Linked DNA regions of Homo sapiens: region 1 is linked to region 2. Evidence: fine-mapped expression QTL. A gene starts in region 2. The other region holds a variant in brackets. All regions are shown on one strand. Distances are between the middles of the regions.

Region 1 (15,816 bases), 32 kb before region 2:
GGAGAATTGCTTGAACCCAGGAGGCGGAGGTTGCAGTGAGCTGAAATCCTGCCATTGCACTCAAGCCTGGGCAACAAGAGCAAAACTCCATCCCCTCCCCCACCCCAAAAAAAAGAAAGAAAAAGAAAAAGCACAAGGCCAGGCACGGTGGCTCATGCCTGTAATCCCAGCACTTTGGAAGGCTGAGGCGGGCTGATCACATGAGGTCAGCAGTTCGAGACCAACCTGGCCAACATGGTGAAACCCTGTCTCTACTAAAAATACAAAGATTAGCTGGGCATGGTGGTGCATGCCTGTAATCCCAGCTACTCGGGAGGCTGAGGCAGGAGAATCGCTTGAACCCAGGAGGTGAAGGTTGTAGTGAGCCAAGATCATGCCACTGCACTCCAGCCTGGGCAACAGGAACGAAACTCTGTCTCAAAAAAAAAAAAAGAAAAAAGAAAAAAGAAAAAGAAACCCTGTCTCTACTAAAAAATACAAAAATTAGCCCGGTGTGTTGGTGCATGCCTGTTATCCCAGCTACTCGGGAGACAGAAGCAGGAGAATCACTTGAACCCAGGACGTGGAGGTTGCAGTGAGCCGAGATCACACCACTGCATTCCAGCCTGGGCGACAGAGCAAGACCCCGTCCTAAAAAACAAGAAAAATCAAGGCCACCAAAGCAAAACATGCCCACGCTGAGTCCATGCTCAGGCCCTGCAAGGAAATGCAGAGCAGCAGAGAAACACAACTGCGGTTCCTGAGGGCAGAGTCAGCGGGTTTCAAGGCTGAAAAGGGAGTCAGTTGCACTCTGCGAATGAGGCCTGGAAAACCAGTGCCCGGGAGAGGAACGAATGGGTCCACAGGTCTGAACACAGTTGGTCCTGTTGTTCATTGATCAGAAAAACTTCCATTAGTATCTGCTGAGATCCTGGCCATTCCAACTTCAGGATCTTTTATCAGCTTCAGCTCACTAGAGCCCCTTGTGGTGAAATACAACACTTAGGTTTGAAGGCTCCTAGAAAGTGCTGCTATAAATGGAAAAAATAATTTACAAAGTGAAGCGTCAATGGACAACCTTTCTTCTCCCTCAACCTCCTTTTCTGTAATTTTTTTTTTTTTTTTTTTTGAGACGGAGTCTCACTCTGTCACCCAGGCTGGAGTGCAGTAGGGCAATCTTGGCTCACTGCCACCTCCACCTCCTGAGTTCAAGCGATTCTCCTGCCTCAGCCTACTGAGCAGCTGGGACTACAGGCACACACCACCACGCCCAGCTAGTTTTTGTATTTTTTAGTAGAGATGGGGTTTCACCATATTGGCCAGGATGGTCTCGATATCTTGACCTCGTGATCCACCTGCCTCAGCCTCCCAAAGTGCTGGGATTACAGGTGTGAGCCACCGTGCCCAGTCAACCTTTTCTGTATTTTTCTACTTTCCCTTCAGTGATCCTCTGTATTATTTTAATATTTACAAGAGACAGCAGGGCGTGATATCTCACACCTGTAATCCCAGCACTTTGGGAGGCCGAAGTGGGCAGATGATTTGAGGTCAGGAGTTTGAGACCAGCCTGGCCAACATGGTGAAACCCCATCACTACTTCTGGTCCCAGCTACTCAGGAGGCTGAGGCAAGAGAATCGCTTGAACGGGGGAAGCGGAAGCAGAGGTTGCAGTGAGCCGAGATTGTGCCACTGCACTCCAGCCTGAGGGAGTGAGACCTTGTCTCAAAAACAAAAAAGTTTACAACAGACTTTCAAGAAACATCAGTTGCCAGACACGGTGTCTCACACTGATAATCCCAGCACTTTGGGAGGCAGCGGCAGGCAGATCACCTGAGATCAGGAATTCGAGACTAGCCTGGACAACATGGTGAAACTTCGTCTCTACAATAATACAAAAAATTAGCCAGGCATGGTGGCGTGTGCCTGTAATCCCAGATACTCAGGAGGCTGAGACAGGAGAATAGCTTGAACCCATGAGGCGGAGGTTGCAGTGAGCCGAGATCACGCCACTGCACTCCAGCTTGGGCGACAAGAGCAAGACTCTGTCAAAAAAGAAAAAAAAAAAAAAGAAACATCATCTTAGTGAGGAGGGTGACCTTCACTTACAGCCATGCTGTAACTGGTACCCCACAAGCCCTCTCATCTTAAGAAACCATTAAACTAAACTGGACAAAAGCCGTGAATGCCAGTCTTCAGGCACTGAACCACAGGCAGCACAAGCCTATGACCCCCGAGTGGAGGGAAACTCACAAGGTGAGACTTCACCCTCTGCCCCTCTCCCTACCCTCTTCCTGGGGACAGTTTTGTAATCACTGCACGGTGAGCTGGAGTCCAGGCAGAACTTAGTGTCCTGCTGAGCTGAGAAGGTGGAGTTAGCATTTGGGGCAGTGGAAATGGCTAGAAATGGTGGGACATGGTGCCAGAGAGGAGGAGTCTGTGCAGAAGGAGGCCCCGAGGTCTGGCAGGGGAGAGGAGGAATGTCCACTAAAAGTCCTTGACTAAGGGCTGGCTGAACATGCATGGGGGAAGATGACGCCAGGCCTCCAGATAGCATCTTCTGCAGGGTATAAGTGAAACAGGCTGGGCATAGTGACTCACACCTGTAATCGCAGATTCTCTCTTGCTCTGTCACTCAAGCTAGAGTGCTGCAATTACACAATCACAGGCCTCTGCTGCCTCAACATCCTAGGCTCCAGTAGCCCTCCCACCTCAGCCTCCTGAGTAGTTGGGACTGCAGGCATGTGCCACCATGTCCAGCTACTGTATTAATTTTTTTGTGTGTTTGTAGAGATGGGGCCCCACTATGTTGGACAGCCTGGTTTTGAACTGTTTCTTTTATTTTTTTGGAGACAGATCTTTGCTCTTTTTGCCCAGGCTGGAGTGCAATGGTGCGATCTCGGCTCACTGCAACCTCCGCCTCCCAGGTTCAAGCGATTCTTCTGCCTCAGCCTCCCAAGTAGCTGGGATTACAGGCACATGCCACCATGCCCAGCTAATTTTTTCTATTTTTAGTAGAGACGGGTTTCACCATGTTGGCCAGGCTGGTCTTGAACTCCTGACCTCAGGTGATCCGCTTGCCTCGGCCTCCCAAAGTATTGGGATTACAGGCAAGAGCCACCACGCCCAGCCCTGAACTCTTAAACTCAAGTAATCCTCTCACCGCAGGCTCCCAAAGTGCTGGAATTAGAGGCATGAGCCGCCCCACCCAGCCTGGAAAATGTATAGCTTTCAATGGTTATAATAGCAAAGAATGGTTACATTGGAGATGGTTATATTAAGAATCTAAGAGAACAATAGAAAATTAAACCCAAAGTAAGTAGAAGAAAATATATAGCTTGCAATGGTTATAATAGCAAAGAATGGTTATATTGGAGATGGTTATATAAAGAACCTAAGAGAACAACAGAAAATTAAACCCAAAGTAAGTAGAAGAAAAGAAACAATAAGGCTGGGCGCGGTGGCTCATGCCTGTAATCCTAGCTCTTTGGGAGGCCGAGGTGGGCGGAGTTCAAGACCAGCCCGGCCAATATGGTGAAACTCCCTCTCTACTAAAAAATACAAAAATTAGCGGGGCTCCGTGATGCGCACCTGTAGTCCCAGCTACTCGGGAGGCTGAGGCGGGAGAATCGCTGGAACCCGGGAGGTGGAGGTTGCAGTGAGCCGAGATCACGCCACTACACTCCAGCCTGGGCAACAGAGCGACACTCCATCTCAAAAAAAAAAAAAGAAAGAAAGAAAGAATAAAGATCAGAAATCAATGAATTAGAAAAAAGAAGAAAATAGAAAAAAATTATCAAAAACAAAAGTTGGGCCAGGTGAGGTGGCTCATGCTTGTAATCCCAGCTACTTGGGAGGCTGAGGCAGGAGAACCACTTGAACCTAAGAGGCAGAGGTTGCAGTGAGCTGAGGTCCTGCCACTACATTCCAGCCTGGGTGACAGAGTGAGACTCTGTCTCAAAACAAACAAACCAACCAACCCACAAAAGTTGGTTATTTGAAAAGATTCACAAAATTGATAAACCTCAAGCAAGACTAATCAAGAATACAAAAGTGAATTAGCCAGGCGTGGTGACACATGCCTATAATTCCAGCTACTCAGAGACTGACGCTAGTGAATCGCTTGAACCTGGGAGGTGGAGGTTGCAGTGGGGCAAAATTGCACCATTGCACTACAGCCTGGGTGACAGAGCAACACTCTGTCTCAAAAAACAAAAATAAAAAAAATTAAAAGTAGGCCCGGCATGGTGGCACACGCCTGTAATCCCAGCACTTTAGGAGGCTGAGGCGGGTGGATCACAAGTCAGGAGTTCGAGACCAGCCTGGCCAATATGGTGAAATCCCGTCTGTACTGAAAATACAAAAATTAGCTGGGCATGGCGGCATGCACATGTAGTCCCAGCTGCTTGGGAAACTGAGGCAGGAGAATGGCTTGAACCCAGGAGGCGGGGGTTGCAGTGAGCCGAGATTGCGCCATTGCACTCCAGCCTGGGGGACAAGAGCGAGACTTCGCCTCAAAAATAAATAAATAAATAAATATAAAAAAATTAAAAAGTAAAAACACAAATTCCTAATATCAGGAATGAAGGGATATTGTTATAGATCCTAACATATAATAAAATTTGTGCCAGCAGACATGGTGGCTCACATCTGTAATCGCAACACTTCAGGTGGCCATGACAGCAGGAGGATCAGTTGAGGCCAGGAGTTCAAGACTGGCCTGGGCAACATCGCCAGACCCCATCTCTACAAAAAAAAAAAAAAAAATTAACAGGGCGTGTTGGTGTGTCCTACAATCCCAGAGACTGTAGTGACCACAGGCACACATGACCAGAGTTGGCTAATTTAAAAAAAATTTTTTTTTTTTTTAAGACGCAGTCTCGCTCTGTCGCCCAGGCTGGAGTGCGGTGGCATGATCTCGGCTCACTGCAAGCTCTGCCTCCCAGGTTCACGCCATTCTCCTGCCTCAGCCTCCTGAGTAGCTGGGATTACAGGCGCCCGCCACCATGCCTGGCTAATTTTTGTATATTTAGTAGAGATGAGGTTTCACCATGTTCACCAGGCTGGTCTTGAACTTCTGACCTCAGGTGATCCACCTGCCTCAGCCTCCCAAAGTGCTAGGATTACAGGCATGAGCCACCACGCCCGGCCTCAGAATAATATTTGACCAAAGTTCTTGTTACCAGAAAGGGGTCCTGATGCAGACCCCAAGTTCCTGGATCTCTCCCAAGAAAGAATTCAGGGCGAGTCCGTACAGTAAAATGAAAGCAAATTTATTAGAAAAGTAAAGGAACAAAGAATAGGTACTCCACAGGCAAAGCAGCCCTGAGGGTTGCTGGTTGCCCATTTTGATGGTTATTTATTAATTATGTGCTAAACAAGAGGTGGATTATTCATGTTTCTCCTTTTTAGACTTTATACAGTAACTGCCTGTCGTTGCCATGGCATTTGTAAACTGTCAGGTCACTGGTGGGAGTGTAGCAGTGAGGACGACCAGAGGTCATTCTTATCGCCATCTTGGTTTTGGTGGGTTTTAGCTGGCTTCTTTACTGCAAACCTGTTTTATCAGTAAGGTCTTTATGACCTGTATCTTGTGCCAATCTCCTATCTCATGCTGTGACTTAGAATGCCTTAAACGGGCCAAGTGCTGTGGCTCAGGCCTGTAATCCCAGCACTTCGGGAGGCCAAGGCCAGTGGATCCCTTGAGGTCAGGAGTTCAAGATCAGCCTGGCCAACCCCGTGAAACCCCCGTCTCTAGTGAAAATACAAAAATTAGCCAGGTGTAGTGATGTATGCCTGTAGTCCCAGCTACATGGGGGTGCTGAGGCAAAAGAATTGCTTGATCCCGGGACGTGGAGATCATGCCACTGCACTCCAGCCTGGGCAACAGAGAGAGACTCTGTCTCAAAGAAAAAAAAAATGCCTTGGCCGGGCGCGGTGGCTCACGCCTGTAATCCCAGCACTTTGAGAGGCCGAGGCAGGTGAATCACCTGAGGTCAGGAGTTCAACACCAGCTTGGCCATTGTGGGGAAACCCTGTCTCTACAAAAGATATAAAAATTAGCCAGGCGTGGTGGCAAGCGCCTGTAGTCCCAGCTACTCGGGAGGCTGAGGCAGGAGAATGGTGTGAACCCGGGAGGCGGAGCTTGCAGTGAGCTGAGATTGTGCCACTGCACTCCAGCCTGGGCGACAGAGCTAGACTCCGTCTCAAAATAATAATAATAATAATAATAATAATAAAGTAAAATAATTAACCTGGACTCTTATTTCACACCTTACACAAAAACAGAATTTTTTTTTTTTTTTTTGAGACGGAGTTTCCCTCTGTTGCCCAGGCTGGAGTGCAGTGGCACGATGTCGGCTCACTGCAACCTCTGCCTCTTGGGTTCCAGCAGTTCTTCTGCCTCAGCCTCCCAAGTAGCTGGAACTACAGGCATGCGCCACCATGCCTGGCTAGTTTTTGTATTTTTAGTAGAGACAGGGTTTCACCATCATGGTCAGGCTGGTCTGGGCTTGAACTCCTGACCTTGTGATCTGCCCATCTCGGCCTCCCAAAGTGCTGGGATTACAGGTGTGAGCCACCATGCCTGGCCGAATTCTCTTTTTAAAAAAATAGTGTCTCCACCAGGCACAGTGGCTCACACGTATAATCCCAGCACTTTGGGAAGGTGAGGATTGCTTGAGCCCAGGAGTTTGAGACCAGTGTGGGCAACATGCCAAAGTCACATCTTTATAAAAAATACAAAAATTAGCTGGGTGTGGTGGCACATGCCTGAAATCCCAGCTTCTAGGGAGGCTGTGGTGGGAGGTTTGCTTGAGCCCAGGAGGTCAAGGCCACAGTGAGCTATGATCATGTGACAGAGTGAGACTCCATGTCCGAAAAAAAGAAAAAAAGAAATGAGGGTCTTGCTCTGTTGCCCAGGCTAGACTACAGTGGTGCAATCATAGGTCACTGCAGCCTTGAGTTCCTGGGCTAAAACAATCCTATGAACTCAGCCTCTTGAGTAGCTGAGACTACAGACGACCACCACCATGCCTGGCTAATTTTTAAATGTTTTGCAGAGACTAGGTCTCACTATGTTGCCTAGGCTGGTCTGGAACTCCTGGTCTCAAGTGATCCTCCCTTCTTGGCATCCCAAAGTGCTGGGATTATAGGCATGAGCCACCACACCCAGCCCCATTTTTTTAAATGGGCAATACACTTGAACAGACATTTCACAAAACAAAGTAGATGAGTATGCCATAAGTACACGAAAAGATGTTCTATATCATTAGTTATCAAGGAAATGCAAATTAAATCACAATGATCAAATTAAAATCAAAATCACTTCTACTAGAATGGTTATAATTTAAAACATTTTGCCAAAACACCATGACTCACACCTGTAACCTCAGCCCTTTGGCAGGCCAAGGCCGGAGGATTGCTTGAGCCCAGGAGTTCAAGACCAGCCTAGGCAACACAGTGAGACTCTGTCTCTACAAAAAATTTAAAAATTAAAAAAAAACAAAATTAGCCAAGCATAGTGGTGCACACCTGTAGTCCCAGCTGCTCTGGAGGCTGTGGTGGGAGGATCACTTGAGCCCTGAAGGTTGAAGCTGCAGTGAGCCAAGACTGTGCCACTGTACTCCAGCCTAGGTGACAGTGGGAGATTCTGACTGAAAAACAAAAAACAAAAAACAGATTTACAGTATCAAGTGTTGTAGAGGATTAGGAGCAAATAGAACATTCATAATTTGCTGGTGAGTATGCAATATAGTACAACCTCTTTGGAAATAGTTTGTCAATTTCCAATACACACACTTACCGTAAGACTCACCAATCTCACTCCTAGATATTTATATGAGAATTGATACCATGTGGCTACACAGGACTTTTACCTGAATATTCATCACTGCTGTGTGCATAAGAGCCCCAAACTGGAAAGAATCCGGATGTCCATCAACAGGAGAATGGATAAACAAATCGTGGTTTATCTGTACAGCGTGGAAAACTTGCGGGAGGCCAGAAATACGCCACCCCAAAATAAGACTGCGGGAGACCAGAATATGCCACCCCAAAATATGCCTCATTGGCATAAGGATTATTTAGAGCTGATTATTTTGAGAAACTGCAGACACAAGAGGAGCTCTAAAAACAGAGTAGGAGTTACTCTTTTGTAAGGAAAATTTGCATCTCTAAAGGAAACCTCCATTTGAAAGAGTATCTCCCTCTCCATATCAGGAAGAGAAGAATGACTCTAAATTACTAGAAACTCTTATCAATGGAGAAAGCATCAGTTGCAATCTGCATAACAAACCCTTGTTTGCTGAGCTTTTTCTGGTCATCGCTCCATAGCTGCCCTCCACTTCCACACACCTTTCTTTCTTTTTTTTCTTTCTTTTTTTTTTTTTTTTTGAGAAGGAATCCTGCTCTGTCTCCCAAGCTAGAGTGCAGTGGCGTGATCTCGACTCACTGCAACCTCCGCCCCACCTCCCAGGTTCAAGCAATTCTCCTGCCTCAGCCTTCCGAGTAGCTGGGATTATAGGCGCCCACCACCACACCCGGCTAATTTTTGTATTTTTAGTAGAGACAGAGTTTCGCCATGTTGGCCAGGCTCCTGACCTCAGGTGATCCACCCGCCTC[G/A]GCCTCCCAAAGTGCTAGGATTACAGGCGTGAGCCACTGCGCCATGCCTCTTTTTTTTTTTTTTTTTTTTTTTTTGAGGAGTCCGTCTCTGTCGCCAGGCTGGAGTGCAGTGGCTTGATCTCGGCTCACTGTCTCTGCCTCCTGGGTTCAAGCAATTCTCCTGCCTCAGCCTCCCAAGTAACTGGGATTACAGGTGCCCGCCACCATGCCTGGCTAATTTTTGTATTTTTAGTAGTGACGGAGTTTCACCATGTTGGCCAAGCTGGTCTTGAACCCCTGACATCAGGTGATCTGCTCGCCTCCATCTCCCAAAGTGCAGGGACTAGGGGCCTGAGCCACCGCGCCCGGCCCCCCCCACCCCCACCCCCACCCCCTTCTTCATGTTAGTTGAAGATAGTATTTAAGCCAACAAAGCAAAGCCACTTCTTGGAGATTTCCCCTTTTCTCTGGGCTTCCCCCACGTATACATAAGGTAAACATCTTAATCAACTTGTGTTGTTTTTCCCTATTTAACCTGCCTCTTGTTACAGGAGAGGGCTCCAGCTTCCTTCCCTGTCCTGTACACTGTGAAAAACTTCTCATCAATAAAAAGGAGTGGATTCAGCCTAGTGCGGTGGCTCACGTCTGTAATCCCAGCACTTTGAGAGACCAAGGCGGGCGGATCACCTGAGGTCAGGAGTCCGAGACCAGGCTGGCCAACAGGGAGAAACCCCGTATCTACTAAAAATACAAAAATTAGCTGGGCGTGGTGGCACATGCCTGTAATCCCAACTATCCTGGAGGCTGAGGCATGAGAACGGCTTGAACCCGGGAGGCAGAGGTTGCAGTAAGTCGAGGTCATGCCACTGCACTCCAGCCTGGGCAGATAGTGAGACAGTGAGATCCTATCTCAAAAAAATAAATAAGGGCAGGCACAGTGGCTCATGCCTGTAATCCCAGCATTTTGAGAGGCCAAGGTGGGTGGGTCACTTGAGCTCAGGAGTTAGAGACCAGCATGGCCAACATGGTGAAACCCGGTCTCTACCAAAAGATACAAAAAATAGCTAGGCATTGTGACGCGTACCTGTAATCCCAGCTGCTCAGGAGGCTGAGGCAGGAGAATTGCTTGAACCTGGGAGGCGGAGGTTGCAGTGAGCTGAGATAGTGCCACTGCACTCCAGCCTAGGTGACAGAGTGAGACTCTGCCTCAAAATAAATAAATAAATAAATAAAGTTTTAGGACAGGCAAAACTGAGCCATAGTGATAGAAATCAGAACAGAGGTTGCCCAGGGGAAGAGGGTGGGAGAAGAGAGATAGCAAAGGAGCTGGAGGAAACACCCTTGGGTCCTGGACATGCTCCACATATGACAGTTAGATGAATGCTCATATTTCTCAAGAGTCATGGCAGAGCGTGGTGGCTTATGCCTGAGATCCCAGCACTGTGGGAGGCTGAGGCGGGCAGGTCATTTGCGGTCAGGAGTTCGAGACCAGAGTGGCCAACATGGTGAAACCCCATCTCTATTAAAAATACAGAAATTAGCTGAGCATGGTGGGGGCATGCCTGTAGTTCCAGCTACTGGGGAGGCTGAGGCAGAAGAATCGCTTGAACCTGGGAGGTGAAGGCTGTGGTGAGCGGAGATCACGCCACTGCACTCCAGCCTGGGCAGCAGAGAGAGACCCTGTGTCAAAAAAAAAAAAAAATGAATCATGAACTGTACACTTAAAATGTGTGCACGCATTTTATGAGTAAATCATGCCTCAACATTTAAAAGAATGAAGAAACAAGGCCGGGCATGGTGGCTCATGCCTGTAATCCCAGCCCTTGGGAGGCTGAGGCGGGTGGATCACCTGAAGTCAGGAGTTCGAGACCAGGATGGACAACCTGGTGAGACCCTGTCTCTACTAAAAATACAAAAAATTAGCCGGGCGTGGTGATGCACGCCTGTAATACCAGCTACTCGAGAGGCTGAGGCAGGAGAATCACTTGAACCTAGGAGGCAGAGATTGTAGTGAGCGGAGATTGTACCACTGCACTCCAGCCTGGGCAACAGAGTGTGAGTCCCTCTGTCTCAAAAAAAAAAAAAAAGAAGAAGAAGAAATGTCATATCAGTATGTAACATAGCAGAGGCATTCTGTTTTTGTTTTTTTACAATAAAGTGTGCTCACAAGATGCCAGGAAAACCCAACATATCTGCTTTGAGAGTACGGTTGGCAAGTTTTCTCACAGGTTGGAGGAGCTGGTTATGGAATTTACAAAGGGACACATGAATGGGTTCTTGTGTGCCAGGCAGGCTGCCTGAGAAGTGCATTACAGATATTACTTAATACTTAAAGCCAGGCATGGTGGCTGATGCCTGTAGTCTCATCAGTTTGGGAGGCTGAGGCGGGTGGATTGCTTGAGCTCAGGAGTTCGAGACTAGCCTGGGCAACATGAAGAAACCCCGTCTCTATTCTTGAAAAATTATTATTATTATTTACTATTATTATTATTATTATTATTTGAGATGGAGTCTCACTCTATTGCCCAGGCTGGAGTGCAGTGGCGGGATCTCAGCTCAGTGCAACCTCCACCTCCCGGGTTCAAGCAATTATCCTGCCTCAGCCTCCCAAGTAGCTGGGATTACAGGTGTGCACCACCACACCCAGCTAATTTTTGTATTTTTAGTAGAGACGGGATTTCACCATGTTGGCCAGGCTGATCTCGATCTTGCGTCTTCAGGTGATCCACCTGCCTCTGCCTCCCAAAGTGTTAGGATTACAGGCGTGAGCCACTGCACCTGGCAAAAATTTAAAAATAAAAAAAAAAATTATTTAATACTTAGAAGAAGACTGAGGTCAAGAATTTGTTATTCCCATTTTACAGAAGGGGAAAATAAGGCACAGAAGTTCAGTAGCTCAATGTAGCTCAGAAATGGGAGCCAGGGCCAGGTGCAGTGGCCCATGCCTATAATCCCAGCACTTTGGGAGGCCAAGGCAGGCAGATCATCTAAGGTCAGAAGTTCGAGACCAGCCTGGCCAACATGGCGAAACTCCATCTCTACTTAAAAATACAACAATTAGCTGGGCGTGGTGGTGCACACCTGTAGTCCCAGCTGCTTGGGAGGCTGAGGCATGAGAATTGCCTGAACCTTGGAGGCAGAGGTTGCAGTAAGTGGAGATCATGACACTGCACTCCAGGCTAAGTGACAGAGCAAGACTCTGTCCCAAAGAAAAAAAAAAAAAAGACTGGACTGGGCCCCTGAGTCAGGAACAGTGTGGGGAAGATTCCAGCAAGGCAGGGGATGACATCTTGAAGACGGGACAGCGCTCCCTACCCCTGTACCTGAGCAAATCCACTTTCCCTCCCGAATCCCACCCACCTGTTCTGGGCCCCGCCTCTCAGATTCCTCTGAAGGTTGACAGATACAATAGCCCAAAACATGCCACTTTGCAATGAGGATCCTGTTGAGCTGAAAGCAACTGAGAAGAAGCAGATAGAAGAAAAGCTCTCTCTGCCAGGGTCGGTGGCTCCCACCTGTAATCCCAGCACTTTGGGAGACCAAGGCGGGTGGATCACCTGAGGTCAGGAGTTTGAGACCAGCCTGACCAACATGGAGTAATCCCGTCTCTACTAAAAATACAAAATTAGCCGGGCGTGGTGGCACGTGCCTGTAATCCCAGCTACTCGAGAGGCTGAGGTAGGAGAATCGCTTGAACCCTGGAGGAGAAGGTTGCAGTGAGCCGAGATAGCACCATTGCACTCCAGCGTGGGCAACAAGAGCAAAACTCATCTCAAAAAAAAAAAAAAAAAGAAAGAAAGAAAGAAAAAGAAAGAAAAGCAGGCCAGGCGCAGTGGCTCATGATGTATGAGAGGCTTGGCCAGGGACAGTATAAGAACAGGCACAGGCCAGGTGTGGTGGCTCACGCCTGTAATCCCAGCACTTTGGGAGGCCGAGGCGGGTGGATCAGGAAGTCAGGAGTTAGAGACCCGCCTGGCCAACATGGTGAAAACCCATCTCTACTAAAAATACAAATATGTGCCGGGCGTGGTGGCACAGGTCTGTAATCCCAGCTACTCGGGAGGCTGAGGCAGGCGAACTGCTTGAACCCGAGAGGTGGAGGTTGCAGTGAGCTGAGATTGCACCATTGCACTCCAGCCTGGGCAACAAGAGCAAGATTCCGTCTCAAAAAAAAAAAAAAAAAAAAGAAGAAGAAAAGCTCTCTGCCCTTCCCGTAGCTGCCAAAAAGCAAGACATAAATTTATAAATGTGCCCACCCCGCAAAAAAAACCACCAGGAAGGACAAAAGTTGATCCCAGAGACACCTCCAGACCCTAAACTTCCTGGGGCCCAGAGGAGTAGACTTAACCGACTCCACTCCTAGCTCCCATCTTCCATTCATCCCCCATATATTGACCCTCTCACGATTTGCTGCCCTAGTGCTTTCCCTTCGTCTTTTCACTTCACTAAAATGTATTCTTCTTTTGTTAAGTTGCTACATAAACCCCAGTTCTAACCACCCTCTTGAGTCACTTACCTCTGAGTACTCCCATGTACAAGTGTCATAATCAACTTCTGTTTATTTTTCTCTTGCCAATCTGTCTTTTGTTAGTCTAATGAATAGGGTCCCAGCCAAAGAATCTAAGATGGGTACACGCCCTACCCACCTTCCTTCTCTCTTCCTCAAGATTCCGAGCGCTCACTGCTATTTAATCATCTCTACCTGTGCCTGTTCTCTTTTTTTTTTTTTTTTGAGATGGAGTTTTCTCTTGTTGCCCATTTTTGAGTGCAGTGTTGTGATCTCAGCTCACTGCAACCTCCACCTCCCAGGTTCAAGCGATTCTCCTGCCTCAGCCTCCCAAGTAGCTGGGATTACAGGTGCACACCACCATCCCCAGCTAATTTTTGTATTTTTAGTAGAGACAGGGTTTCACCATGTTGGCCAAGCTGGTCTTGAACTCCTGACCTCGGGTGATCCACCCACCTTGGCTTCCCAAAGTGCTGGGATGACAGGCGTGAGCCACCGCACCTGGCCTGTGCCTGTTCTTATACTGTCCCTGGCCAAGCCTCTCATACTCCACCATAGTTTCCTCATCTGTGAAACGGGGATTTCAGGAGTACCCACTTCCTGGGCACATATGTGAGGCATGAGGACTAAACTCTGATTTTTTGTTTTTGTTTTTTTTGAGACGTTGTCTGGCTCTGTCGCCCAGGCTGGAGTGCAGTGGCACAATCTCAGCTCACTGCAAGCTCCACCTCCTGGGTTCACACCATTCTCCTGCTTCAGCCTCCCGAGTAGCTGGGATTACAGGTGCCCGCCACCACGCCCGGCTAATTTTTTGTATTTTTAGTAGAGACGGGGTTTCACCATGTTAGCCAGGATGGTCTCGATCTCCTGACCTCGTGATCTGCTTGCCTCGGCCTCCCAAAGTGCTGGGATTACAGGCGTGAGCCACCGCGCCCGGCCTAAACTCTGATTTTTATCTTGCCCAAATTCCTATCTAAGGGGTCTGGGGAGCCATGCCCTACAAATCATAAATTCTCTTCAGATGGGTTTTATTTAACCCTAGGTATTGTGACTGACTTTCCAACCTGACTGACTCTGGCATAACATTATGAGACAAGGAAGAACATCAAAATATTTTACCCCAAAACATGTTTCTTTGTCATATTTTGAAATGTCCCTACAAAGCTGTTCCTTGCTAGGGAAAATTTGCATCTGTAAAGAATCTCTATTAACATAGCTAGATCTTTTTCTTCCAGAACCTCACAATCCTATAGAGATTAACTAAGATCTGAATAGGAAACATTTGCCATTTATTGTCTCTAAAAGCAGCCACTATAAGACTTCAAAAGAACTTTGGTGTCCACAATATTTATCTTTTTTTTTTTTTTTCCTGAGATGGAGGTTTGCTCTTGCTGCCCAGGCTGGAGTGCAATGGCATCATCTCGGCTCACCGCAACCTCCACCTCCCGAGTTCAAGCGATTCTCCTGCCTCAGCCTCCCGAGTAGCTGGGATTACAGGCATGTAACACCACACCCGGCTAATTTTGTATTTTTATAGAGACAGGGTTTCTCCATGTTGGCCAGGCTGGTCTCAAACTCCTGACCTCAGGTGATCTGCCTGCCTTGGCCTCCCAAAGTGCTGGGATTGGGCCACTGTGCCTGGGCTCACAGTATTTATCTTATCCTGAACATTCCCTTTCTATGAATCCCAGGTCTTTGGACAAATTCAACCAATTGTCAACCAGAAAGTGTTTAAATTCACCTATAGCCTGGAAGCAACCCCGCCCTGCTTCGAGTTGTCCTAACTTTCTAGACCAAGCCAATGTAGTTCTTAAGTGTATTTAATTGGTGTCTCATGTCTCTCAAAAATGTATAAAAACAACTTGCACTCCAGCCACCTTGGGCACACATCTCAGGACCTCCTGAGGGCTTTTGTCACGGGCCATGGTCACTCATATTTGGCTCAGAATAAATCTCTTCAAATATTTTACAGGGTCTGACTCTTTGTTGGCATGCATATATAAAGAAGTTTGTCGGGCGCTGTGGCTCACGCCTGTAATCCCAGCACTTTGAAAGGCCGAGGTGGGTAGATCACCTGAGGTCAGGAGTTTGAGACCAGCCTGGCCAACATGGTGAAACCCTATCTCTACTAAGAATACAAAAATTAGCCAGGTGTGGTGCCACGTACCCGTAATCCCAGCTACTCGGAGGCTGAGAGAGGAGACTGGCTTGAACCCAGGAGGCAGAGGTTGCCAGTGAGCCTAGATCACACCACTGTACTCCAGCCTGGGTGACAGAATGAAACTCCATCTCAAAACAAACAAACAAACAAAGTTAAAGTTAAGATATGCAAAAGGGGGCCTGGCATGGGGCTGACATCTGTATTCCTAGCACTTTGGGAAGCCAAGGTGCGAGAATTGCTTGAGCCCAGGAGTTCAAGACCAACCTGGGCAACAAGGTGAAACCTCGTCTCTACAAAAATGTGTAAAAATTAGGTGTGGTGGCGTGTGCCTGTGATTCCAACTACTGAGCCAGGAGGCCAGGAGGTCAAGGCTGCAGTAAGCCATGATTGCAACACTGTACTCCAGCCTGGGTGACAGAAGGAGACGCTGTCTCAAAAGAAAAATCACAACAAACCCTTCTTCCTTTCATGCGTTCAATAAAGATATGCTGAGTGTACTTATCTACAGGGTGGTTTGTGTTAGAAATTTTATTTATTTATTTATTTATTTAGAGCCTCACTCTGTAGCCCA
Region 2 (15,816 bases):
GGTGGTTACAAACTAACAGGCAGACATTGATGAAAGTGATTTCGATCCTGTTTTTCCTGAAAAATTAGATTTAACTCCCAAGGTGTGCTCATTTTCATTTCAAATTTCTCCTGTACTAAAGGAGGAAGAGCAGGCCCAGCTGATGGCAAAACTGTGAAGTGGTTGCTTACTCCTTCAGATGCAGGCAACAGGGGCTGCAAAAGCGTGAGCTCCTCCAACCCTCAGGAAGAGAAGTGGGTGCACCAGCTGCCAGGCCCGGGGCAGTGTAGAGGGTCAGTAAATATCTGTTGAATTTCCTTAAGTCTTCATTAGGCCAGTGTATTAGTCCGATTTCACACTGCTATAAAAATACTACCCAAGACTGGGTAATTTATAAACAAGGGAGGTTTAATTGACTCACAGTTCAGCATGGCTGGGGAGGCTTCAGGAAACTTACAATCATGGCAGAAGGGCAAGCAGGCACCTTCTTCAAAAGGCAGCAGGAGGCCGGGCGTGGTGGCTCACTTGAGGTCAGGAATTTGAGACCAGCCTGGCCAACATGGTGAAACCCCATCTCTACTAAAAACACAAAAATTAGCCAGGTGTGCTGGTGTGTGCCTGTAATCCTAGCTACTTGGGAGGCTGAGACAGGAGAATTGCTTGAACCAGGAGGCAGAGGCTGCAGTGAGCCAAGATCACTGCACTCCAGCCTGGGCAACAGAGTGAGACTCCATCTCAAAAAAATAAAATAAAATAAAAATAAATAAATAAATAGCTGGGCGCAGTGGCTCACGCCTGTAATCCCAGCACTTTGGGAGGCTGAGGTGGGCTGATCACGAGGTCAGGAGATCGAGACCATCCTGGCTAACACGGTGAAACCCCGTCTCTACTAAAAATACAAAAAATCAGCCACGCGAAGTGGTGGGCGCCTGTAGTCCCAGGTACTCGGGAGGCTGAGGCAGGAGAATGGCGTGAACCCAGGGGACGTAGCCTGCAGTGAGCCAAGATCGCGCCACTGCACTCCAGCCTGGGCAACAGAGCAAGGCTCCGTCTCAAAAAATAAAAAAATAAATAATAAATAAATTAATAAATAAATAAAAACATGACATTTGGGTGGGGACACAAAGCCTAACCACATCAGCCAGCTTGGTGAGTCTTGGTATTCTGCATCCTGGACCTCCTCACCCTGGACTAGATGCATCTTTTTTTTTTTTTTTTTTTTTGAGACGGAGTCTTGCTCTGTCGCCCAGGCTGGAGTGCAGCGGCGCGATCTCTGCTCACTGCAAGCTCCACCTCCCGGGTTCATGCCATTCTCCTGCCTCAGCCTCCCGAGTAGCTGGGACTACAGGCACCCGCCACCATGCCTGGCTAATTTTTTGTATTTTTAGTAGAGACGGGGTTTCACCGTGTTAGCCAGGATGGTCTCGATCTCTTGACCTCGTGATCCACCCTCCTCGGCCTCCCAAAATGTTGGGATTACAGGCGTGAGCCACTGCGCCCAGCTAGATGCATCTTAAAGTATGAGAAACCACCTTTTGAATGGCTTCCACAGGGTATGGAAAAGTGGTATGATTTCAGTAGCACTTCTCATACTTTTTTTTTTTTTGAGATGGAGTTTCGCTCTTGTTGCCCAGGCTGGAGTGCAATGGCGCAATCTCCGCTCACCACGCCCGGCTAATTTTTAGTAGAGACGGGGTTTCTCCATGTTGGTCAGGCTGGTCTCGAACTCCTGACCTCAGGTGATCTGCCCGCCTCAGCCTCCCAAAGTGCTGGGATTATAGGTGTGAGCTACCATGCCTGGCTGCACCTCTCATACTTTAAGATGCATAAAAATCACCTGTTAAAAATGCACATTCTGGGCCGGGTGTGATGGCTCACGCCTGTAATTCCAGCACTTTGGGAGGTCGAGGTGGGTGGATCACCTGAGGTCAGGAGTTCGAGACCAGCCTGGCCAACATGGCAAAACCCCGTCTCTACTAAAAATACAAAAAATTAGCTGGGTGTGGTGGCAGGTGCCTGTAATCCCAGCTATTTGTGAGGATGAGGCAGGAGAATCGCTTGAACTGGGAGGTGGAGGTTGCAGTGAGCCCAAATTGCGCTACTGCACTCCAGCCTGGGCAACAAGAGGGAAACTCCAACTCAAAAAAAAAAAAAAAAAAAAAAAACACATTCTGATTCAGTAGGTCTGGGGGCTGAACCTGAGATTCAGTGTTTATTTTTATTTTTTTGAGACAGGGTCTCACTCTGTCACCTAAGCTGGAGTGCAATGGCATGATCATGGCTCACAGCAGCCTGGACTTCCCAGGCTCTGGCGATTTTCCCACCTCAGCCTCCAAAGTAGCTGGGACTACAGGTTTGCGTCACCACACCTGACTAATTTTTTTCTTTTCTTTTCTTTTATTTGAGAGAAGTCTCACTCTTATCCCCCAGGTTTGAGTGCAATGGCTCGATCTTGGCTCACTGCAACCTCCGCCTCCCGGGTTCAAACGATTCTCCTGCCTCTGCCTCCCAAGTAACTGGGATTAAGTTGCCTGCCACCACGCCCGGCTAATTTTTGTATATTTTAGCAGAGACGGGAGTTTCACCATGTTGGCCAGGCTGGTTTCGAACTCCTGACCTCAAGTGATCTGCCCGCCTCGGCCTCCCAAAGTGCTGGGATTACAGGCGTGAGCCACTGCGCCTGGCCGCGGCTGGCTAATTTTTTTCTAATTTTTGTAGAGATGGGGTCTCACCATGTTGTCCAGGCTGGTCTCCAACTCCTGGGCTCAAGCAATCGTCCTGCCTCAGCCTCCCAAAGTGCTGGGATTACAGGCGTGTACCACCACGCCTGGCCAGATTCTGTGTTTCTGACAATCCTCCTACTGATGCAGATGCCTGTACACTTCCTGGCTATCCTATCTGCCAGCTGTGTGGCCTCAGGAGGCCTCAGCATCTCCCTGGGCTTCAGTTCTTCCGCTGGATATTATTTAGATGAACAAACATATATTGACAGCTTACTACACGCCGGGCTGCTCTGGGTGCTTGCTAGAAAAACAAAGATGAAGAAGCCACAAGCCAAGCCCAGGCATGCCTCACAGACAGAGAACTTAAAGGTCCAACTACAATATTTAAAGACTCTGCGTTTGAAAATTTCATGACTCATTGGCAGAAATAGGACGACCGGATCTGCATCTCCCAGAAAACATCTCTCCAAACACTATGACAGGGATTCCCCGCTGACTACTGTCCTCAGAATCAGGGAATACGAAATCCAGAAGTAACCTCAAGAGAAATTTAGCCCAAACTCTATCTTGCCATTTTACAGAGAGGAGAAACTAGAGAACAGATGCAGAAAGAGTGGGGTCTGGAGGAAATTACTGGTTTTCCAGCTATGCTTTCGAAGGCTGTGATGTCCAACAGGAATAACATATGAGCTACAAAAAACTTAATATGTAATATTAAATTTTGTGGTAGTCACATTGAAAAGAGTAAAAAGAAGCCAGGCACAGTGACACATGCCTATAATCCTAGCACTGTGGGAGGCCAAGGCAAAAGGATTGCTTGAGGTCAGGAGTTTGAGACCAGCCTGGGGAACATAGTGAGACCTTGTCTCCACAAAAAAATTTTAAAAATTAGCTGGGCGTGGAGGTGCACGTCTACAGTCTCAGCTACTAGGGTGGCTGAGGCAGGAGAACTGTTTGACCCCAGGAGGTCGAGGCTGTAGTGAGCCAAGATGGCGCCACTACAGTCCAGCCTAGGTGACAGAGTGAGACCCAGTTTCCAAAAAAAAAAAAAGAGAAAGAATCGTTTCCATTGGTTAGCGCATCACTCCCAGGATCACTGGTTTCATTTTTATAGACACTGGATCAGAAAATTAATCTTTCAAGTACAGGTGTAGCTTTCTGTAGCCAAGTTGAATAGAATTACACTTCTGAGGCTGGGCACAGTGGCTCACGCCTGTAATCCTAGCACTTTGGGAGGCGAAGGCGGGCAAATCACGAGGTCAGAAGTTCAAGACCAGCCTGGCCAACATGGTGAAACCCCGTCTCTACTAAAAATACAAAATTAGCTAGGCGTGGTGGTATGCGCCTGTAATCCCAGCTACTTGGGAGGCTGAGGCAGGAGACTGCTTGAACCTGGGAGGTGGAGGTTGCCACCACTGCACTCCAGCCCGGGTGACAGTGCGAGACCCCACCTCAAAAGAAAAAAAAAAATGAATTATACTTCTGAGGCTGTGCACAGTGGCTCACCCCTATAATCCCGCAACTTTGGGAGGCTGAGGTGGGAGGACCACTCGAGACCAGCCTGGGCAACAGAGAGAGACCTTGTCTCTACAAAACATTAAAAAAGAAAAAAAATTTAGCCAAGTGTAGCTGTCCATGCCTGTGGTCTCAGCTACTTGGGAGGCTGAAGCGAGAGGATCGCTTGAGCAAGGAAGGTAGAGGCTGCAGTAAGCTGGGATCATACCATCACCCTTCAGCCTGGGTGCTGGAGGAGCAAGATTCTATCTAAAAAAATAAAAAAAAAAAAAAAAAAAAGAAAGAAAAAATCACACCTCACCCCTGGAAAAGAACTTAAGCGTAGCTGAATCTAACTTGCAATATGATTTTGCTGAAGATGAGGTTAAAGAGTGACGGCAGGCTGGCACTTGCAGCCACATTTCCAAAATTCTGGGTGTAAAATGCTCAGCACAGTGCCAGACACCTGTGCCTCAAAGTGTCAGAGAAATCTCAGCCACCTTCTTTCCCTTCCCCTCTCCCGGTTTTGCACCAAACCATCCTGTCCCTGGAGAATTTGCTCAATTAGAAGCGAGGTGAAATTCCAAGCACAGTTTGAAGGAGGAAGTGTCATTTTCAGCTTGCCTGTAGGTGCACCTCACTATGTAACATTTGTTACATAAGTGGCAGCATGACACGCCTAACTGATGAATGTCTGTTGCACACCCAATTCCAGCCGGGAGAGTCACGCAGGCTTTCCCTGGGAGAATAGTGGTGTGGAATTGAGGCATGGAGTTGCAAAAATTACTTTTGTCTTCTGACAAGTAGGGCCAGTTCCAGGGTGTTATACCCAAAGTGCTTTTCTACTGCAGCATAACCTCAAGAAAAACCAGTTTCAGGAGCACCACACCTAGGATCAGATGATGCAATATGATATTAGCGTCTCATTGCATCAGTGTGTCTGAGGCATGAGTCTTTTAAGCTGGCAAAAAGCATTATAAAGGGGCAGGAGAAAAAAGGAAAAGACTTGCAGACTGAAATCTAAAGGTACTGTCAGTGGTGTTCCTAATTGGCCACACAGGGTGTTTAGAGGATAAACACCCAGCCACCCGCCTCGGCTGACAAGCATCAGCATGCCATTTCCTGAAGGGGACTTGATGGCATATTTAGGCGAAATTCTTTTCTGGTTGGTTCTACTTATGCTTTATATCAAAGCGTCAAAGTTTAACCTCTAAAAAATCTTTTTAAATGCAGGTCTATTAAGAATAGGCTTTCAAAGGGTGCTTCTATTCCATCTTGACTTTTCTGAAAATCTCTGAAACGTACCAGTTGATTTCTCATTTCCAAAGTTCTTTTACATAAGCACTCTCAGCTCTCTTGACACACAGACTTTTGACTTTGATCAAATACCTTAGATTTGGGCCTCTTGGTTTCTCTGTCTTCCTTTACAGGACACTTGATGCTTCCCAGTCCTGTTTCTTGCACTAACAATGAATGAATGAATCACAAAAATCCTAGAACTTTATGCGTTTTCAAGAAGTTGCCTGAAGAAGGAACTTCCTTGTGCGGTACGCCTCAGGAAAAAAGAAGCAGGAGAAAAGCTTTGAGAGGAGAGCAAGTGACGGTGAGATCGTAATGGAAGTGGGGTGGAGAGGTGGAGGGTGGAGACCGGTAGGAAGCAAGCAAGGCTTTTTTCACCCGTCCCAGGACACGCGAACGAGATCAAGCCTCACTGCGGTTCACTAGGGTCTATGCAGGCCCTCGCACCCCTGCCTACCTCCTCAGAACCCAGCCTCTTGGCTCTTCTCACCCCAGCCCCACCAGACAGCTTCCCTCCCAGGAGGTGTCTCTCAAGATCTCGAAATGTGGAGCGTCCCGTTCACTCCACCTGGCCTGGAATACTTTTCCTGCCCCCTTTCATCGGGTCTTATTCATCCTTTAAGTTGTTCAGCATAACTTTCCACCTGAATGCCTTCCCTGGCCCTGGACTAGGATAAATCCCCTCGCCATAATGTTCCTACACAGGCATCACTTTGTAAAGCTTACCACTGTTGTAATTACTTGTTTACTGATCTGTCTTTCCGTTAGGCTGTGCGTTCCACTGGGGTGGAAACCTTGTTCACTGGCTCTGCAGCCCCGGGCACTGTGGGTCTTGCATGTACCGGGGGCTCAGTAAATATTTGGCAAAAAATGAAAAAGTTCCCCTCAAAGCCAGCTTCCAGTGCCTCCACGGCCCTCAAATTAATTATGAATTAATTCACTAATACAGCAAACCTTTATGTGATTCTTCCGTGTCACAGCACCTTGTTACATACTGAGGACACATCCACAGGCAAATAAAACTCAGCTTCTCTCTGCACAGGAAAAAATTATTCAAATTGTATTCATCTTTCATTCCAATCACTCAATTAGGGCACGTCCCTTGTTGGCTGCTGCGTGAGCGAAGTAACTATTTTCCAGCGAGTGTCCTCATGTGACCTGTCTAGACGTGCCCAGGAAAAACAATCCAACATCCTCCTAAGCCGCAAAGAAGTCCCTGACGCGCAGGCCGCACTGCGTGGAAGGCCCAAAGCGCGCTCGCGGGCCCGCGAAAGGCGCAGGAGCAGCGGAGCCGAGGCGGGCGGCGAGGCGCGCGGCGCGCGGCGCAGGCTCGGGTGGGCAGGGCAGGGCCAGGCCGGGCGGGGCGGGGGCGCCGGCAACGGGTCCGCCGGCCGGCAGGGGGCGCGCGCGCCCCGCGCCCCGCGCCTCCCGCCCCGCCGCGCGCTCGCTTGCCGCGCGGCCGCACATGTGTTTCTGTTTTGTGTTGTAGCATTTGTTCTGGAAGCTCGTATTTACATTTTAAGTGTATCTGGTGAGTGGGCTGGAGCCCTCGTCTGGGCCGGAAAAAAAAAAGCCCTCCGATCCGTCTTTTAGTTGCTTCTCTTCCTTTTTTCTCTCCGGTTTCTCATCACTCCAACCAGGTAGGGTCTGAAAATCGACAGTGATCAGTTTGTGGGGTCTGGGAAAGTTTTTTTTTTTTTCCTTTTTTTAAAGAGAAAAGGTTAAAAAAAAACCTGGGGGAGGGGGGCTGGGTGATTGAAGGAATAAAAAGAGGAAGGAAGGCGGATCCACGTGGTTTAATCGGAGACAGACAGAGATCCCATTGTTCAAAATCAATTAAAAAAAAAAAAAAAAGCAGACAGGGGAGAGCGCAGGGACGCCGGGGAGCTGGCGGCGGCCCTGGACACTTTGCAGTCGAATCGGAGACCGGCCGGGCCGCACGGCCGGCAAGGGGGCTGGGAGAGAGTTGGGCACCATTAAAGTTTTTATTTTTCGTGTCTGTGCGAGCAGGTGTTTGGGGCTGGGGTCCAGCTTTCTTCGGGCTCTTCCCCCGTCGCCGGGGGCAGTCCGCCGTAGGGATTCGGCTAACTAGAGCCCGAGGTCGGCACCCCTGAGCTGGGGCCGAACGGGGGTCCAGGGCTGATGCGGGGTGGGGGAGAGCGTTGCATTAAATGCCATGAGTGGGTTTGGGGGGAGACTGCGGAGACAAAAGCAGCAGGTGGGGTAGCCGGGGAGCAGGGGCTCCCTTACCACCCAGGTGCCAAGGGGGAATCCTGGAAGTGTCCCGAAGCCTTCTTTAATGAAAATCTAGGGGACTGGAGGCTGGTTTTACTTTCCCTTTACTTTTGGGGGGCGAGGTTGCAACTGTGATGCTTTGTGGGCAAACCTAACTTACGGATAGGCCGGGGGTCTCAATTCTCCCTCCAGGGGATTGCCTCTGGGGCTCCCGGCTGCCCTGCGGGATTCCCCGAAGGAGCCGCGCCGGGGCCAGGGAGGGGCGCGATTTCCTCTCCCAACTCGCCCCCTCTCCGCCCACCCTGCGGCCGCCACTTTGGGGAGGGCAGAGGAGGAAGTGGAGGCCGGGTGGCTCGTCTCCGCTCCCCTCCCCCCGCGCAGTTTATAACCCGTCCATTGTGCGCCGCTGCCCCGTGTCTCCCTCCAGCCGCGACCATGCCCAGGAAGAAGGCGGCGGCGGCGGCCTGGGAGGAGCCGAGCTCGGGCAACGGCACTGCCCGCGCCGGGCCCAGGAAACGCGGCGGCCCGGCGGGCAGGAAGCGCGAGCGGCCCGAGCGCTGCAGTAGCAGCAGCGGCGGCGGCAGCAGCGGCGACGAGGACGGCCTGGAGCTCGACGGGGCCCCCGGCGGGGGCAAGCGCGCGGCGCGGCCGGCGACAGCAGGCAAGGCGGGCGGCGCGGCCGTGGTCATCACCGAACCCGAGCACACCAAGGAGCGCGTCGTGAGTGAGGGTCAGGGTAGACGGGTGGGCGCAGGGCCGGGGCCGGCGGGCTCAGCGACGCGGCACGGCGCGCGTTCCAGCCGGGGGCCGCCTCGCGTCACGCTCCCTCCCGGCGGCCGGGCCGGCGCAGGCCGCGGGCTGAATCATTGCCTCCGCCTCCGCGCAACAAAAGGGCTCGGTACGGGGCGCGCGGCCCGCGGCCTACCCGACCCCGGGCACCGCGCGGGCGGTTGGCGGTTGGGGCGCGCGCCCGGGCCCGCGGCGGGGGAGGGGCGGCCGAAGCCCGCACGAGGGGGTCATGGCCCCGCCCCCACAGCTCCCTCTGCGCCCCTCCCCCCCCGCCCCGGGAAAGGGGACCTCGGTAAGTTCGCCCGGCCTGGAAGAGGGGGCGGCCAGCGGGCCCCACACGTCCGTGGCCGCCGCTGCGCCCGGGCGCCGCGGGGAGGGGGCGGCCGGCGCTCTGCGGGGAGCGGCCGTTTGCGCCGGGGCTTTGAGGTTCCCGCCGCCTCGGCTCCGGCGCCCGGGGGGGGCGGGGCCTGACGGCCGCCGCGCATGCTCCGCAGAGCCCTCCCCCGAGGTCGGGGAAGCCCCCCGGCTGAGCGGTGCTCGGGCTTTGTTTGCCGCCGGTGGTCCGAAGCTGCAGGATGCTCGCGAGGGCTCTGTTGTAGCCCCCCCAAGTGAAGAAGCATCTCCTAGGGTCCTGGGCGGGCTTCTGTTTTCTCAAATCTTAATTAAGGTCGTGGCTGACTCAAGTTAACGTTCCCGAAAAAGCCTGCAGAGCCGGAGATCTGAACCCGGCATCTGCCGCCACAGCATCTCCCCACCCCCACAGAACTTTCTTTAAGTTTGGTGTGGTGTGGGATATGTTTTTCAGAAGAGGGTCTAAGTTTTCACCAGATTCTCAGATAACCCCCAGAGAGCAAGAACTTCCACCTGGGGTGTAGAGCCTGACACCCGGAGAGGTTTTTTTCCTTCCATAAGTGCCCATCTCCTAAGGGTGTTTAAGGGTTAACAGCAGAGTGCTTTCCTCCAGAGAAGCGCAGGCAGTGTCTAATAACACATTTTCTACGTCCGTTTTATAGATAGGGAAACTGGGGCACAGAATTCGAGGGCCTTGTCCAAAGTCATGGATGGAACTGGATCTCCAAATGCTGTAACTCCTGATGTCCCTGCAAATTGCACATGGGAATATGCTTTGTAAAAGTGCCTTCTGGGTGAAAGGGTTAACATGTTAGGCAGTGGAGGAGAGCCCGTCAAAAGCTGTCAAAAGGTCTTGCCCGGGGTCTTGGATCAGGCTAGACTAGACAATGGCCAAAGTATTGAGAAACTGGAACACAGGAACTGTTTTCCTTTGACGTCTAGTCTGCTGTGCCAGACTCCAGACATTTGCCCTCCGAACACAGTATGTTAGGATGAAACTAAAAAGAAAGGCCAGGTGAGCTTCCGCGTCTCCTGTATCCTATTTTGAGTGAGTTTCCAAAAGCAAGATTGTGTTTAGACATCCAAGACTGCAGTTATCAGCTGTACAGCTCCAGACTGTTGGAACGCTGAATTTTGCCATCAGAGCAAAAGATCCTTACCCCATGCTGAGATTGACCCAAGGAGGTAGAGACAGGGAGTGTGTGAGGGACACTGGCTCTCCCTGGCCCACCTCTGTCTCCAGCTGTGCTGCTTGAAGCTGCTTTGTCAATGGAAATGGCACATTTGTTAGTCTTTTTTTTTTGAGGCAGAGTCTCCCTCTATGGCCAGGCTGGAGTGCAGTGGCACGATCTCAGCTCACTGCAACCTCCGCCTCTCAGGTTCAAGTGATTTTTGTGTGCTGATCAGCCTCTCGAGCAGCTGGGATTACAAGTGTGTTCCACCACACCCGAATAATTTTTGTACTTTTTGTAGAGGCTGGGTTTTACCATGTTGGCCAGGCTGGTCTCAAACTGCTGGCCTCAAGTGATCTGCCTGCCTCAGCCTCCTTCCAAAGTGCTGGGATGACAGGCGCGAGCCCTGTGTTGGGTTGCATGTTTGTAAGTCTTAATGTGAGTAAACAGCAGTCCATTGCAGCTTTTAAGTTCCTGTTTATACACATAAATACGTTATTATTTTACATATGTGTATAAGCAGGACTCTAAAAGCTACATCTTCCTTTCTCTATCCACTTAAAACCAACAGGGGCCCATGATGCCCATCCTTTGGGCTGTCGGTGCTGTTCTAGAATCAGAGCACCTGGGAGGCTGAGGGTTCAGCATATGATGCCCCTTTATGCCTCATGGAAAGTGCACACCCTACATTTAAGTTTTGCTTTTTTTTTTTTTTTTTTGAGCTGGAGTTTAGCTGTTGTTGCCCAGGTTGGAGTGCAATGTTGCGATCTCAGCTCACTGCAATCTCCGCCTCCCGGGTTCAAGCAATTCTTCTGCCTCAGCCTCCCGAGTAGCTGGGATTATAGACGCCCACCACCACACCTGGCTAATTTTTTGTATTTTTAGTAGAGACGGGGTTTCACCACGTTGGCCAGGCTGGTCTCGAACTCCTGATCTCAGGTGGTCCACCCACCTTGGCCTCCCAAAGTGCCCCACGTTTAAGTTTTGTTAGCATCTACTGAGTTTGGTCCATGTTCGGGGCTGGGTCCATGCAGCCCCATTGCCTTTCCATAGGCCTAGGGCAGCCCTCTGCCCCTTGTCCTGGGTTGGCCTCCTGCCCAGTCTCCCTGGCCCCAGGTTTCTGGTCTCTGTTTCTCTGTTGAGCAGTCCTAGGGACCCTGTGTGCTGCCACAGGCAGACAGCAGTCCTTGTTGCAGAAAGAACCTTTTTTACTGAGCATTTTGCATGCCTTGCCCCGCTCAGGGTTGCTAGGAGGAGGTCTGTGTGAAAGCAGCCGCCCAGGAAATGTCCAAAACCATATTGCCTTCAGTGACCCCAAAGCTGCAGGTGTCGGGCTTGTAGAAGATGAGCCAAATACTTACATTGTTGAGGGGCAGAATTGCCTTGAGTAAAAGATGTGCATTTTATAGAACATTCTTATGGCAGATGAGCGTTGTCATTGCCTAGGTGTTAAGAAAAAATTCAAATTCTTTTTTCCTCCGCTCTCACGGCCACACTCAACAACCAACACCAGACTTCTTCCGCACCCCCCACCCCAGATGGAGTCTTGCTCTGTCTCCCAGGCTGGAGTGCAGTGGTGTGATCTCAGCTCACTGCAGCCTCCACCTCCTGGGTTCAAGCAACTCTCCTGCCTCAGCCTCCTGAGTAGCTGAGATGACAGGCACCTGTCACTGTGCTCGGTAATTTTTGTATTTTCAGTAGAGATGGGGTTTCACCATGTTGGCCAGGCTGTCTTGAACTCCTGACCTCGTGATTTGCCCGCCTCCCAAAGTGCTGCGATTACAGGCGTGAGCCACCACGCCCCGCCTCCCAACACAAGACTTCTGTGACTAGACGTAAAGGGAGGTCTCCCCCTGCTATCAAGCAAGCAATCAGTTCTGCAGCACACACCGGCTGGGTGTCCTCCAGTTCATCTCTTGACACTATCCACCTGGAGGTAGATTTCCTCATCTTGAGGGCTCAGTCCCCAAGACTGTCCTTCCACCCCAGACACCAGTTGCAAGTCCAGTCCCTGGTAGCTTCTGACCAACTAGCCTCTAGTTGGGGTTCTCATGACCCCCTCTTTGGGGTCGATTAATTTATTGGAATGGCTCACAGAACTCAGGGAAACACCAGTTTATTATAAAGGATATTACAAAGGCTATGGATAAAGAGACCTGTAAGGCTAGATGTGGCAGAAGGGGCACTGTGTTTCCGTGCCCTCTGCAGACCACCCACCTGGTACATGTTCAGCTCTCCACAAGCTCTGTGACCTGGTCCTTACAGGTTTTTAACGGAGGCTTCATTATGTAGGCATGGTAGATTAAGCCATTGATCATCACTTTAACCTTCAGTCATCTCCCTCCTGAGGTTGGAGGATGGGGCTGAAAGTCCCTAGGCTCCCACTGCCCCATCCGGAAGCTGCCTGGGGGCTGCCAGTGTCAGTCATTAGCATACAAAAAGACATTGCTTTGGAGATTCCAAGGATTTGGGAAGTTGCATGCCAGGAACTCCAAATATTGATGGCAGTGTCACACTAGGGTAGATTCAGTCCTAATTCTTTGCGCACTTCATAACCTCCTAAAGCAAGTAAAGGCAGCAGCCTTGGCCAGATCCTACAAAACAGGTGAGTGTTGCAAGCTGCCCAGGTCTTTGTAGTTTTTCCAGTCTTGGGTTGCCAAGGTTTTGTGGACCCTGAGACAGATGTGTTGAATCTGAAAGGAGCAAATAAATAAAACTGAAAGCCAACCCGGAAGTCTGTTTCAGTTGATGGCCCTTAGGTAATTGGTCGATGCCGGCATTGTTCCCGGGGGTCTTACCTCCCCGGAGCAGCGGTCTTCTACATGGACCTATGTTAAAAGGTTGACTCTGGGCCCCGTAAACGCGCACCTTGCATTTGGATCATAATTCAAAAATTGCTTTAGACTAGAAATCCCATTTTGTTGATTGAAGAAGCTCAGTGCCTTTTCTGTCCATTTCTGTGTGTCTCTGCCCAGGTTATGTGACCAAGTTGCTGGAGGCAGCCAGGTGAAATGACATGAAAATCACTCATCTCATTGGGCAGACTGTTTGCCAGGCTGTCTGCTGCGTGGCCTTTATACACAAGCAGGGTCGCAGACACTGAGTTCGTCCAAAAAAACAATCCGTAGGCCCATCAGGGAAGGCTGGATTCCGCCTGGGAGGGCACACTGAGCTTCAGACACCCACACACCCACTGGCACCCCCGCCCTGCCCCGCCGCCCCGGGTGGAGCCCGCAAGCGCGGGAGTCTCTCCCACGATTGGCTGTTTCTGGTCTCTGAGGAAGAGGAGCACCCCTTAAGTGAGAAGGGGTGCTGGGAGTTCTCTGTTACTCTATTTAAATGTTAATTCCACATAAGGCAGAGGAAAGAAGTTATAGAGAAATAAAAGAAAGCAGCTTAGAGCAAACAATTATGTAAATAATAACGAAATACACTAACCTCCATCTAATGTGTGAGGAAATAGGATCCATGACGTAAAAACTTGAATAACAGTTAATGTCCTTCATAGGAATCTGACCACCGTCACTGGAGTAGACTCAGTTTACCGGGGTTTTTCACACATACACACGTATATATGTATATGTATACACACGTATGTATATGTGTGTGTGTGTGTATATATATGTGTGTGTGAGTGTATATATATATTTTTTTCTTTTTCTTTTTCTTTTTCTTTTTTTAAGATGGAGTCTCGCTCTTTCGCCCAGTCTGGAGTGCAGTGGCGCGATCTCGGCTCACTGCAAGCCCCGCCTCCCGGGTTCATGCCCTTCTCCTGTCTCAGCCTCCCGAGTAGCCGGGACTACAGGCGTGAGCCACCATGCCCGGCCCACAAATACATTTTTATTGGCGTGGTTGGGTTTGCCTATAAATGCTTAGCTAGCTTGATGGATCAGTCTTCATGAGCCCTTGACCAAATGTCCAGGTCACCCAGGAAACTCCCTCCCCAAGGCCAAGGCCACTGCGGTTAAGCTCTGGCTGTCTGAACTTGCCCCTGAACCATGCCCTCTGGCCTGATGGAGCTGAGGCTTCTGGTGTGGCCTCAGCACTGTGAAGTTTTGCTGCAGTGGTTGCATCTCAGTGTAGGGTGGTTTGACTTCAATGGTTCATACTGAGCACAGGTGCCCATGAACCTCCGCCTGCCTGGTCTGCAGTTGCTGGCATTCCAGGGCTCTTTTCTAGGCTTGCCCTCTGGCCTGGGAGCTTGGTCTCCAGTGCCTTAGCACCCTTCCTGGGTCTCTACTGCCCCCTCCATGCCAACTTGGTAGGCTTGGGCAGAGGACCCAGAGGCCTCTCCTTCCACAGGGACTTCAACAGAAGCCATTGAATATAGACCTGTAGCATATTCCAGCCAGGCCTGCCAGTTAAACAAAGAAGGGCAGATAACCAGGGGAAGCTAGGCTCCAATTCAAGTAACCTGAGTTGTGGGTGCTGCAGGGGCTGGGCCACCCTCTGATTAAGGTCATTTTCTAAATAATTTAAATGAACCAAAGTTGTTCTCCCTTTCCGTGTTGTTTCACTTCCCTCCCCCCAACTTTTTTTTTCTCTTTTTGAGACAGAGTTTCGCTCTTGTTGCCCAGGCTGGAGTGCAATGGTGTGATCTCGGCTCGCTGCAACCTCTGCCTCCTGGGTTCAAGCGATTCTCTTGCCTCAGCTTCCCAAGTAGCTGGGATTACAGACACCCGGCTAATTTTTTGTATTTTTAGTAGAGACAGGGTTTCACCATGTTGGCCAGGCTGGTCTCAAACTCCTGACCGCAGGTGATCCACCCACTTTGGCCTCCCAAAGTGCTGGGATGACGGGCCATGAGCTACCGCGGCTGGCCTCACTTCCCCTTTTCATGAGGACTGCAGGATGCATTCCTGTAGATTGACCATCTTTTTCCTGTTACATAATGTGGTGGAGTGGGCAAGCGTGACGGAACCTATATCTTGGGGGACGCCCTAATCAGGTTTGGGTCGTGTAAAGGTTCCTATTGAAGTGGAAATCATCCGTCATGAAGATGTGTAATCTTAGAAATGCGTGAGCCGTACTGCCAAAGCATACCCATGGGGTGATCACACTGTAGAGGTTAGAATGATTGGGCCTGGAGCTGCCCTTTTTTCTTTTTCTTTCTTTCTTTTTTTTTTTTTTTTTTTTTTGAGACAGGGCTGGCTTTGTCACCATGGTTGGTCTTGAACTCCTGACCTCAGGTGATCCGCCTGCTTCAGCCTCCCAAAGTGCTGAGATGACAGGCGTGAGCCACCACACCCAGCCCACATATATATATATATATATATATTTTTTTTTTTTTTTTTTTTTTTTTTTGAGATGGAGTCTTGCTCAGTCGCCCAGGCTGGAGTGCAGTGGTGCGATCTTGGCTCACTGCAAGCTCCGCCTCCTGGGTTCACACCAATCTCCTGCCTCAGCCTCCCGAGTAGCTGGGACTACAGGTGCCGGTCACCATGCCCGGCTAATTTTTTTTGTATTTTTAGTAGAGATGGGGTTTCACCGTGCTAGCCAGGATGGTCTCTATCTCCTGACCTCGTGATCTGCTTGCCTCAGCGTCCCAAAGTGCTGGGATTACAGGTGTGAGCCACCGCGCCTGGCCAACAAATACATTTTTATTGGCATGGTTGGGAACTTTCATCGGCGTTATTTTATTGGCATTTTATCGGCACTTTGGGAGGCCAAGGTGGGTGGATCACCTGCGGTCAGGAATTTGAGACCAGCCTGGCCAACATAGTGAAACCCTGTCTCTACTAAAAACACACAAAATTAGCTGAGTGTCTGTAATC

What was found.
Region 1: its variant is fine-mapped to the expression of RCC2 in whole blood (TOPMed, PIP 0.93).

Annotation. Positions count from the first base shown.
Region 1 is chr1:17,462,678-17,478,493 of GRCh38, reverse strand. No RefSeq gene overlaps it. Among named protein-coding and RNA genes, the nearest start is that of RCC2, 31 kb to the right of the region's middle. RefSeq lists enhancers at 7,924-8,577, 8,578-9,231, 9,232-9,885, 9,886-10,541. The variant G/A (reference allele first, on the strand shown) is at 8,599.
Region 2 is chr1:17,430,864-17,446,679 of GRCh38, reverse strand. It overlaps RCC2 (regulator of chromosome condensation 2), which reads left to right and starts at 7,003. Exons shown (of 13, transcript NM_018715.4): 1 at 7,003-7,135; 2 at 8,158-8,450. The coding sequence starts at 8,166. It overlaps LOC124903862 (a long non-coding RNA gene), which reads left to right and starts at 5,137. Exons shown (of 2, transcript XR_007065508.1): 1 at 5,137-5,222; 2 at 5,627-6,544. RefSeq lists silencers at 6,764-6,903, 8,223-8,322.